Linked DNA regions of Homo sapiens. The protein of the gene in region 2 interacts with the protein of the main gene of each other region in a biochemical or structural test. Each region holds a gene or a part of one and is shown on either strand. Other genes may lie near its edges.

Region 1 (4,259 bases), on a different chromosome or scaffold from region 2:
CTGACTGGAAATGCCGGACAGCTTCAGAGCCAAAGCTGCCTGAGCCAAATGTGCCAGGTGCCAAGTGACCTGCTGTCCTGGAAGAAGCCCCACCTAGAACACACCTGAGACGGTGGCAGAGCCAAGGTCTTCCCTGTCACTTGGGGATGCCCTGCCACTTGACCACCAGGCAGCAGCAAAGTGTTCCAGCCAATGGCAGAAGCATCATAGCCATTGGCCAAAGAGCCATGCCTTCCAGCTAGAAGTCCAGAAAGGCTCGGGCGGAGTCTGACCTCTCCCTGTCTGTGTGTCCCTGGCCGGCACTCATCAGTCCAAGCCAGGGGCTAGGAGAGGGTGCCCACAAGGACCAGAGCCCCGAGGATAGCTCAGCTGATCTGTGTGGCACCTGGATCTGCAAGCACAGGCACGGTCGGGACTTTTCTGTCTTCTCTCTAGCGCTTATCAACGGGTCGGGACTTTTCTGTCTTCTCTCTAGCGCTTATCAACATCTGAAATCATCTTATTTGGGGGCTCTTGTAAGCACGCAGAAAGCGGCTTCGATGGACCTTCCTCCAGGGAGCTTTCCCTGATGCCCTAAGGCTACTGAGCTGGGACCCTAAGGCCCTACTTACCCCCTTCCCTAGGTTATCACTGCATTGCTCCCTCCTCAACCCCTGAGCCCGAGAGGAGGGGCCAAGTCAGTGTGGTCCAATACTGTCACCCTAGGACCCAGCACAGTACCTGGCCCAGAGCTGGCACATAAGGAACATTTCCTGAGTGAACAAGCACATCAGAAAATGAAAAAAGATCTGGAGACTAGGGAGGCCTCGGTCCAAATCCACCATCCACTCTTCTTGAGATGGCTTCATGGCCTCATCTGAAATTCACAGAACGGAGGTACCTACTTTCCGTGACTGTTGGAAAGATTAGGGGACAGGAGGTGTGTGAGCTGCTCACAGTAGCTAGTGCCACACAGCACGCCTGCCCCTTCACCCCACTGGCCCCTCAGGTCAGAGTTCAAGGCTGGTGTCCCTGGGAGGTCACGGGTGGACCCCTGCAGCTCCCAGCAGTAGTTCCTCCTGGGCTTCAGCTGTGGCAGCAAGCCAATCTCCTGAGAGCATGGACCTCCCTCACAGATGGCAACATCACCACCAGGGCTGAGCTGAACCTCTCTGCCACCCGGTCCCTGTGCCAGGTGTTCCTTTGGGCTTTGGCAAAAGACCCAGAGAGCGCTCCAGATGGACTTCCCTGACCTTACTGTACAGATGCAGGCACCTTCCTTCAGGAGGTCGCAAAGGCTCTGCCTTGTGCCCTGACTTCCCTGTGAAGCCACCAATCAAAGGAGCCAAGTGTGAGGCAGGATGCAATATGTACACGCCTCCCGCTCTCCCATCACCCTTTCATGGTTCCATGGAAAGAAAGAACATCCACACCCCACATCTTATGCCTGCTGAGGCTTCTGTCTTTGGCATATTTCTGTTGGACCATGTGTCAATGGTGGCTGCATGTTTTCCTATGGCGTCCAAATCAGTGGGATTCAAGACCTGGGGTTCCTCTGTAAGGGTTCTCACACCCAGGACGGTCAGTCTCAGGGCAAGGCACTGCCCAGCTACCCACCGTTCACTGTCCCCTACTCCCACCCCAACGCACACACAGGCACACACACAGGGGAGGTCAGGGAGGAGGCACACATGTCTTCACCAAGAGCCTACAGGAGCCCAGTTGCTGGAGCCATCAGAGCCTCTGGAAAGCCACTATATACTGCCGTCCTTTCAGCAGCAAGGTGGGAGAAGTCAGCATCGTCAAGAGAATTTCATTAGGCACAAGCAGTCTCCCCCAGAGGTCAGAAGGAGAAAACATGGCAAGTAGAGATGTCCCTGGGGAGTGGCCGCAAAGTCACGGAGTTCTGGAAGGTCAGAGTTGACAGGATCCTTTGAGAACATGAAGTCTCCTCCCCTCTGGGTTCCAAAGGGGAAACTAGAACCCAGAGAGAGGAGGAAATGGCCTAAGGCCACGCAGTGGCTCAGTGTGGGAGCATGGCCTAGAGGTCAAACCTCTTACCCATCAGGGCCAGGTGCTGGCTGGCAGCTGCTTCAGATGGTTTCCAGCCCACCTAGGACCTAAATTAACCTCTTCTTAAATAAGTGTAAGGAAAGAAGACTCGGACCTGAATACGCAAGACCGCACACGGAGAAGAGCAGAAGCAAAACCCCCGCAGCCTCAGAAACCCTAGCTCCTTCCCATTCCAGGCGCCTCGAGGGGAAGGCATCTGGGGCTCTAAGACTGGGGGACTATGGGGGATGACTGGCAAAGTCCGGTTCTTTGCCACCGGGATAGGTGGCAAAGCGGTCCACGAGAGAGGAAACCGTGGAGAAATTTGAGTCCCGGAACCGGATTCCCGAAGCGGTTTGAGAAAGGCGGGCCGGGATACGTGAGTGACTGCCTCAGAAGGGCTCCTTCAAGGACACTAAGGAGGTGACAGCCGCCGTGGCCCACTCTCCCGGCCCGTCCGGAGGGCCCCCCGCCACCCGATGCAGACCCCCTGGGGGAGCCGGTCCAGGGCCAACTTCGGCCAATCCCCTCAGTGACAGCGGAGGCGGCCAATCAACCCCGGCGCGAAGCCCTTTCCCCGCCCCTGGTGGGGCCCCTAGCCAATCGGACTCCAGACTGCTTCGGGTGCGGCTACCCCACCGCTCCCCTGCGACCGCTGCCGCGGTCCCGTGGCTCTTTCCCTGCTCACCTCCCAGGGACGGCAGAGAAGGGCTGGCCCGAGCACCGCCTTCGCGGCGCTGCCGGCGACGGTCGCTACCTTCAGCGCCATGACGGAAAGTGAGAGCCTCCGCACGTCCCGACACGCAGATACCGCTCTCGCGAGAGTTCGACGGGGTGCGAAGTTTCGGGGACAGGCGCGGACCCGGTACTGCGCACGCGCGCGGTCGCACCGATTCACGCCCCCTTCCGGCGCCTAGAGCACCGCTGCCGCCATGTTGAGGGGGGGACCGCGACCAGCTGGGCCCCTGGCTCAGGGAGGGGCCACGTCAGTGCTGCCAGAGACGTCACAATGCCGGCCCAGCCGTTCGGTGCGCGATTGGCTGCCGCTGCCACTTACGCGTCGCTCTTCCTCGTTTGCCCCTCGTGTTCATGGGAGCTCGTTTTCTTTTCCTCTAGGCAGAGAAGAGGCGATGGCGGCGATGGCATCTCTCGGCGCCCTGGCGCTGCTCCTGCTGTCCAGCCTCTCCCGCTGCTCAGGTAGCGGCCCAGCCGGGGCTTCTTTCTTGCGAGCCTCTGACCCACGGCAGGTGGTGTTGGGGGCAGGAGGGATGCGGGGGTCCGGCCTTTCAGGGTCCGTCGCTGCGGGCCGGGCCTTCCCCCGAGAGGCAGGCGGCCTTGGGACGGGGGGACCAAAGCACCTCGCGCACGTTTACCGGCAGCCAGGCTTTTCCTTGTCTGCCCATACGAAGAGGAGTCCCCGAGCCTCCATGGTGCGCCCGGCCCCCAAGCTGCAGCACGGAACGTGACACATGTCCCGGCTCCCGCTCCCTGCGGGGTCGGACCGGAGCGAAGCTCTGTAGCGCTGAGCGATCGCGGCCAAAAACGGGGCTGGAGGAGCCACATAAGCTAGGAAGGGACCTCAGTGAGGAGAGGGAGCAAGAGCGGGGCGAGTTAGATGGGGAGCCAAAGGTGCGCAGGGCCTTGAGTGCCAGGCCGAAGACTGGCTTTTCCGGAGGGCCCTGCCTTACCCTTACCAGAGTTTTCGGCAGAGCCGACCAGGGGTCCCGTCGATTTGCATTCGTGAGGGGCTGAGGTCTGAACTCCAGAGTGTGTTTAGGAGGTGGCTGCAGCAGCCAGCCCCGGGCCCGGGGGCCAGGACTGGACAGGGGCGGCTTTCTCCACATTCCCTTTTCTGCCGTCCTTCAGGCCAGTAGCCTTGCTGCCTGCAACGTTTTGGCAGCCTAACTGGCCTCCCTTTCCGCACACTCCTCATCTGCCCCTCAGGAATTCCCTGAACTATAGTCAGGGACGTATCCAGAGGACAAGCCTGGCCATAAAACCCTTCGGGGGCTCCCCTGCGCCACAGGAAGCAGGCCCAACTTAGGCAGGACACAGAAGGGCTGGCGGGATCTAGCCCCTGAGAACTGCCTCCACGCTGTTCCTAGGGATCTGCCTCCTGTGGTCCAGACCCAGAGCCTTCTCTGACGTCCTCTGCTGAAGCCATCGTTCTGCCAGGGCACCACATTTGGACAGCGGGTGGCTGAGAACATTCCCACTTTGGGGAGCCT
Region 2 (3,500 bases):
TGGTACTCAGTTTAAGAAGGCAGGTTTATGTGTAGCATTTCAGAAAGACTTTTATTTAGCATGGTTAATTTTTTTGTTAATTTCATATTTTGAAGTAATTTCAAACTTAAATCAGTTGGGTCTCAAAAAAAAATCAGTTGGAATAATACGAAGAACTCTCCTATATCCTTTATCTAAGTTATTAACATTTTTCAGCTTTTGCTTTATCATTCACACACACACCCATCTATGCATACATTTTTTTTTTGGTAGGAATGCCACAGAGGTGATACCGTATCTTACTCAGTGCATCTATCAGGAGACACATGCTGGTTTGACCTATTACAAGTTGATTTTTAAGATCACTTGGTTAAGGTGGAGTCTGCCAGGTTTCTCAATGCTAAGGTTAATATTTTTACCTTTGTAATTAATTTGTGCTTTCAAGGAATATGCTTTGAGACTGTGTAAATATCCTGTTTCTCATCAAACTTTTATCCACTAGTTTTAATATCTATTGATGATTCTTTCCTCAGTCAGTTATTACTACAATGGTTGCCAAATGGTGATTAACATTCTATTGTAAGGAAGGTTTTCCTTCTCTCTTATTTATTTATTAATTTATTTTTAGATCAGTGTGGACTAATGGATTCTTTTTTTTTCCATGACTGTAATCCATTAGTAGGGGTATTATGATGCTCGTATTGTCTTAGATTTGCCTCATGGGTGGGAGCTCCTTCAAGCTGGCTCCTTTGTCCCTCTGGTATGTCCCCACCATTCTTTGAGCACCTCCTTTCTTCTTGGCATACTAATATATGCTGAGCTCAATTTGTATTCTGTGCCAGCCCTGGAATCAGCCATTTCTTCAAGGAACCCTGGAGAATGGTATTTAGGAACTAGGATCCGGGTTCTCAGAGTGTTCATTGCTGCTATTATGTCATTGCTTTCGTAGCCAATAGTATCAGGAAATAGATGTATGTATGTGTGTGTATGTGTTTGTTGTGTACATACATATACACATACATACGTGCATATATATGCACAACAAATTGCACAGATACACCTGTCTCTATGTCTGTGAAAACCATGAATTTGGCTTCCAGCAAAGGCAGATTAACATTTACCCTTCCATGTGAAACAATGAAAACAATGACAAAACATATGAAGCAATGGTTTTCAGACACCAAAGGGCAGTGATCTCTTGAGAGATGGGAAACAAATGAACTGAGCTCTCCAGTTGCCCTGCCCTACTGCCTTGAGAGAATTTTCGTGCTGTAACAGAAAGAGGGAGAACCCAGATGGGAGTCCAGGCAGACCCTCTGTTGAAAAGGCAGAGCTGAGCATCAGGGGAGGCCAGGGTGGCTGGCATTCACATGCAAGAGACGATAGCGGAGACAGCTCTGCACAGGGAGAGAACCCCACAGGTCTGCAGAGTCTCCACTGGCACTCAGCTGAATACTGACCAGCACATTGTGCAAGAAAACTACTTAAGGTCAGTGAAAAGGCCTTTCCTCTTTAACTTTTCGAATTAGAGGAAACATGTCTGGTGCTCACCCATGGCCAGGGATAGTGCCTGTTCCCACCAGCTAAGACTGGAAAAATATTTCATGGGGCATTGGGTATGATACAGAGTAGGGGGTCTTGCCTCTGTAGTAGGGAATGATCAGCCTTAGAGTGAGCACTGCTTCAGCCCTACCTGAGTGTTTACAGGAATATACAAATACCCAACATCCAACAAGATGAAATTCACAATGTCTGGAACCCAATAAAAAATTACTGGCTGGGTGTGGTGGCTCAGCCTGTAATCCCAGTGCTTTGAGAGGCTGAGGTGGGTTGATTGCTTGAGCCTAGGAGTTCAAAACCAGCCTGGGCAACATAGTGAGATCCTATCTCTACAAAAAATAAAAAAAAAAATAGCCGGGTGTGGTAGCATACACCTGTGGTCCCAGCTACTTGCGAGGCTGAGCTGGGAGGATTGCTCGAGCCTGGGAGGTTGAGGCTGTGGTGAGCTGTGATCATGCCACTGCACTCCAGCCTGGGCAGCAGAGCGAGACCCCATGTCAAAAAATAATAAAATGTATAACCCAATTTTTTAAATGGACAAATAATTTGAACAGACTTCACCAAGAAAGATATGTAGATGGCAAATAAATATATGAAACTTGTTAATATTATTAGTTATTAGGGAAATGCCAATTAGAACCATAACGAGATACCACTATACACCCTCTAGAATGGCTAAAATGAAAGAAGACTGACCATACTAAGTGTTGGTAAAGATGTGAAGCAGTTGGGTCTCATACACGCCTGGTGGGAATGTAAAATGGCACAATCACTTTGGAAAACAGTTTGGCAGTTGCATGCGCTTTCCTTGTGATATAGCTTTTTCAGTCCTGGGTGTGTATTTGCCCAAGAGAAATGGAAAAATATGTCCATACGAAGGCTTGTACATGAATATTCGTAGCAGCTTTATTAGTAATAGCCAAAAATGTAGAAATCAAATGTCTACCAACAAGTAAATAGTTAAACTAACCATGGCATATCCATATGATCAAATACTAGTCGACAGGTGGGGCTTGGCTCACGCCTGTAATCCCAGCACTTTGGGAGGCCGAGGTGGGTGAATCACCTGAGGTCAGGAGTTCGAGACCAACCTGGACAACATGGTGAAACTCCATCTCTACAAAAATACAAAAATTAGGCATGATGGTGGGTGTCTGGAATCCCAGCTACTTGGGAAGCTGAGCGGGAGAATCGCTTGAACCTGGGAAGTGGAGGTTGCAGTGAGCCGAGATCACACCATTGTACTCCTGCCTGTGCGACAGAGCAAGACTCCGTCTCAAAAAATATATATACTAATCAACAATAAAAGGAAGTAGAGTATTGATACATGCTACAGCATGGATGACTTTCGGACTAGTAAGATTAGTACATACTCTGATGCCGTTTGCATAAAATTCTAGAAAACACACAGTCATGACAGAAATTGGATTGGTTGTCTGGGCATGGGGTATTTGACGGTGGGATTACAAAGGGACATGAGTTTTGCAGGTGACGGCTATGTTCATTGTCTTGATTGTAGTGATAGTTTCATGGTATGTACATAATGTCACAACTTACCAAATACTGTACTTTAGCAGTTATTGCATATCAGTTACACTCTAATAAGCTCCAAAAAGCAAAATAAGATGAGGGAATACTGTTGTCTCCAATTTCATTTCAGCACCCTAGGGCCCTTTCCATGTTTGTAGCTTCCTTCTTCAAGACCTTCATTCACAACGTACTGAGTTACTTGTCAATCCTAGGATACATGGTAGCTTTTTACAATTTCTGACCTGAACTATGGCAAGAAACAGTTATACTAACTAGAATTCAATATTTGTTTTTATTTATACTAACTAAAGTTCAATATTTGTTTTTATTTCTTTTTGTCTTTAGTCTAAGTTTTTGGTCAAAACACTACTTGAGTCAAAAATAACTTAGTTCTTTTTTCTCACCCTTCATCATATTTTCAGTGTGTGCTA

Evidence for each region. Proteins that work in one complex are often made in the same cells at the same time.
Region 1: the proteins of ERCC6 (region 2) and IDH3G form a complex in vitro, tested with the Homo sapiens proteins (one large-scale study listed by BioGRID).

The regions. Positions count from the first base shown.
Region 1 is NC_000023.11:153,791,527-153,795,785, forward strand, and holds the start of IDH3G (isocitrate dehydrogenase [NAD] subunit gamma, mitochondrial isoform a precursor), read right to left. Parts: upstream 2,801-4,259; coding exon 2,720-2,800; exon of another isoform or gene 2,633-2,719; intron 1-2,632. Other genes in the region: SSR4 (translocon-associated protein subunit delta isoform 4 precursor), read left to right, coding at 2,799-2,865, 3,148-3,228. UniProt on the Homo sapiens protein: Regulatory subunit which plays a role in the allosteric regulation of the enzyme catalyzing the decarboxylation of isocitrate (ICT) into alpha-ketoglutarate.
Region 2 is NC_000010.11:49,466,122-49,469,621, reverse strand, and holds part of ERCC6 (DNA excision repair protein ERCC-6), read left to right. Parts: intron 1-3,500. UniProt on the Homo sapiens protein: Involved in repair of DNA damage following UV irradiation, acting either in the absence of ERCC6 or synergistically with ERCC6. Involved in the regulation of gene expression.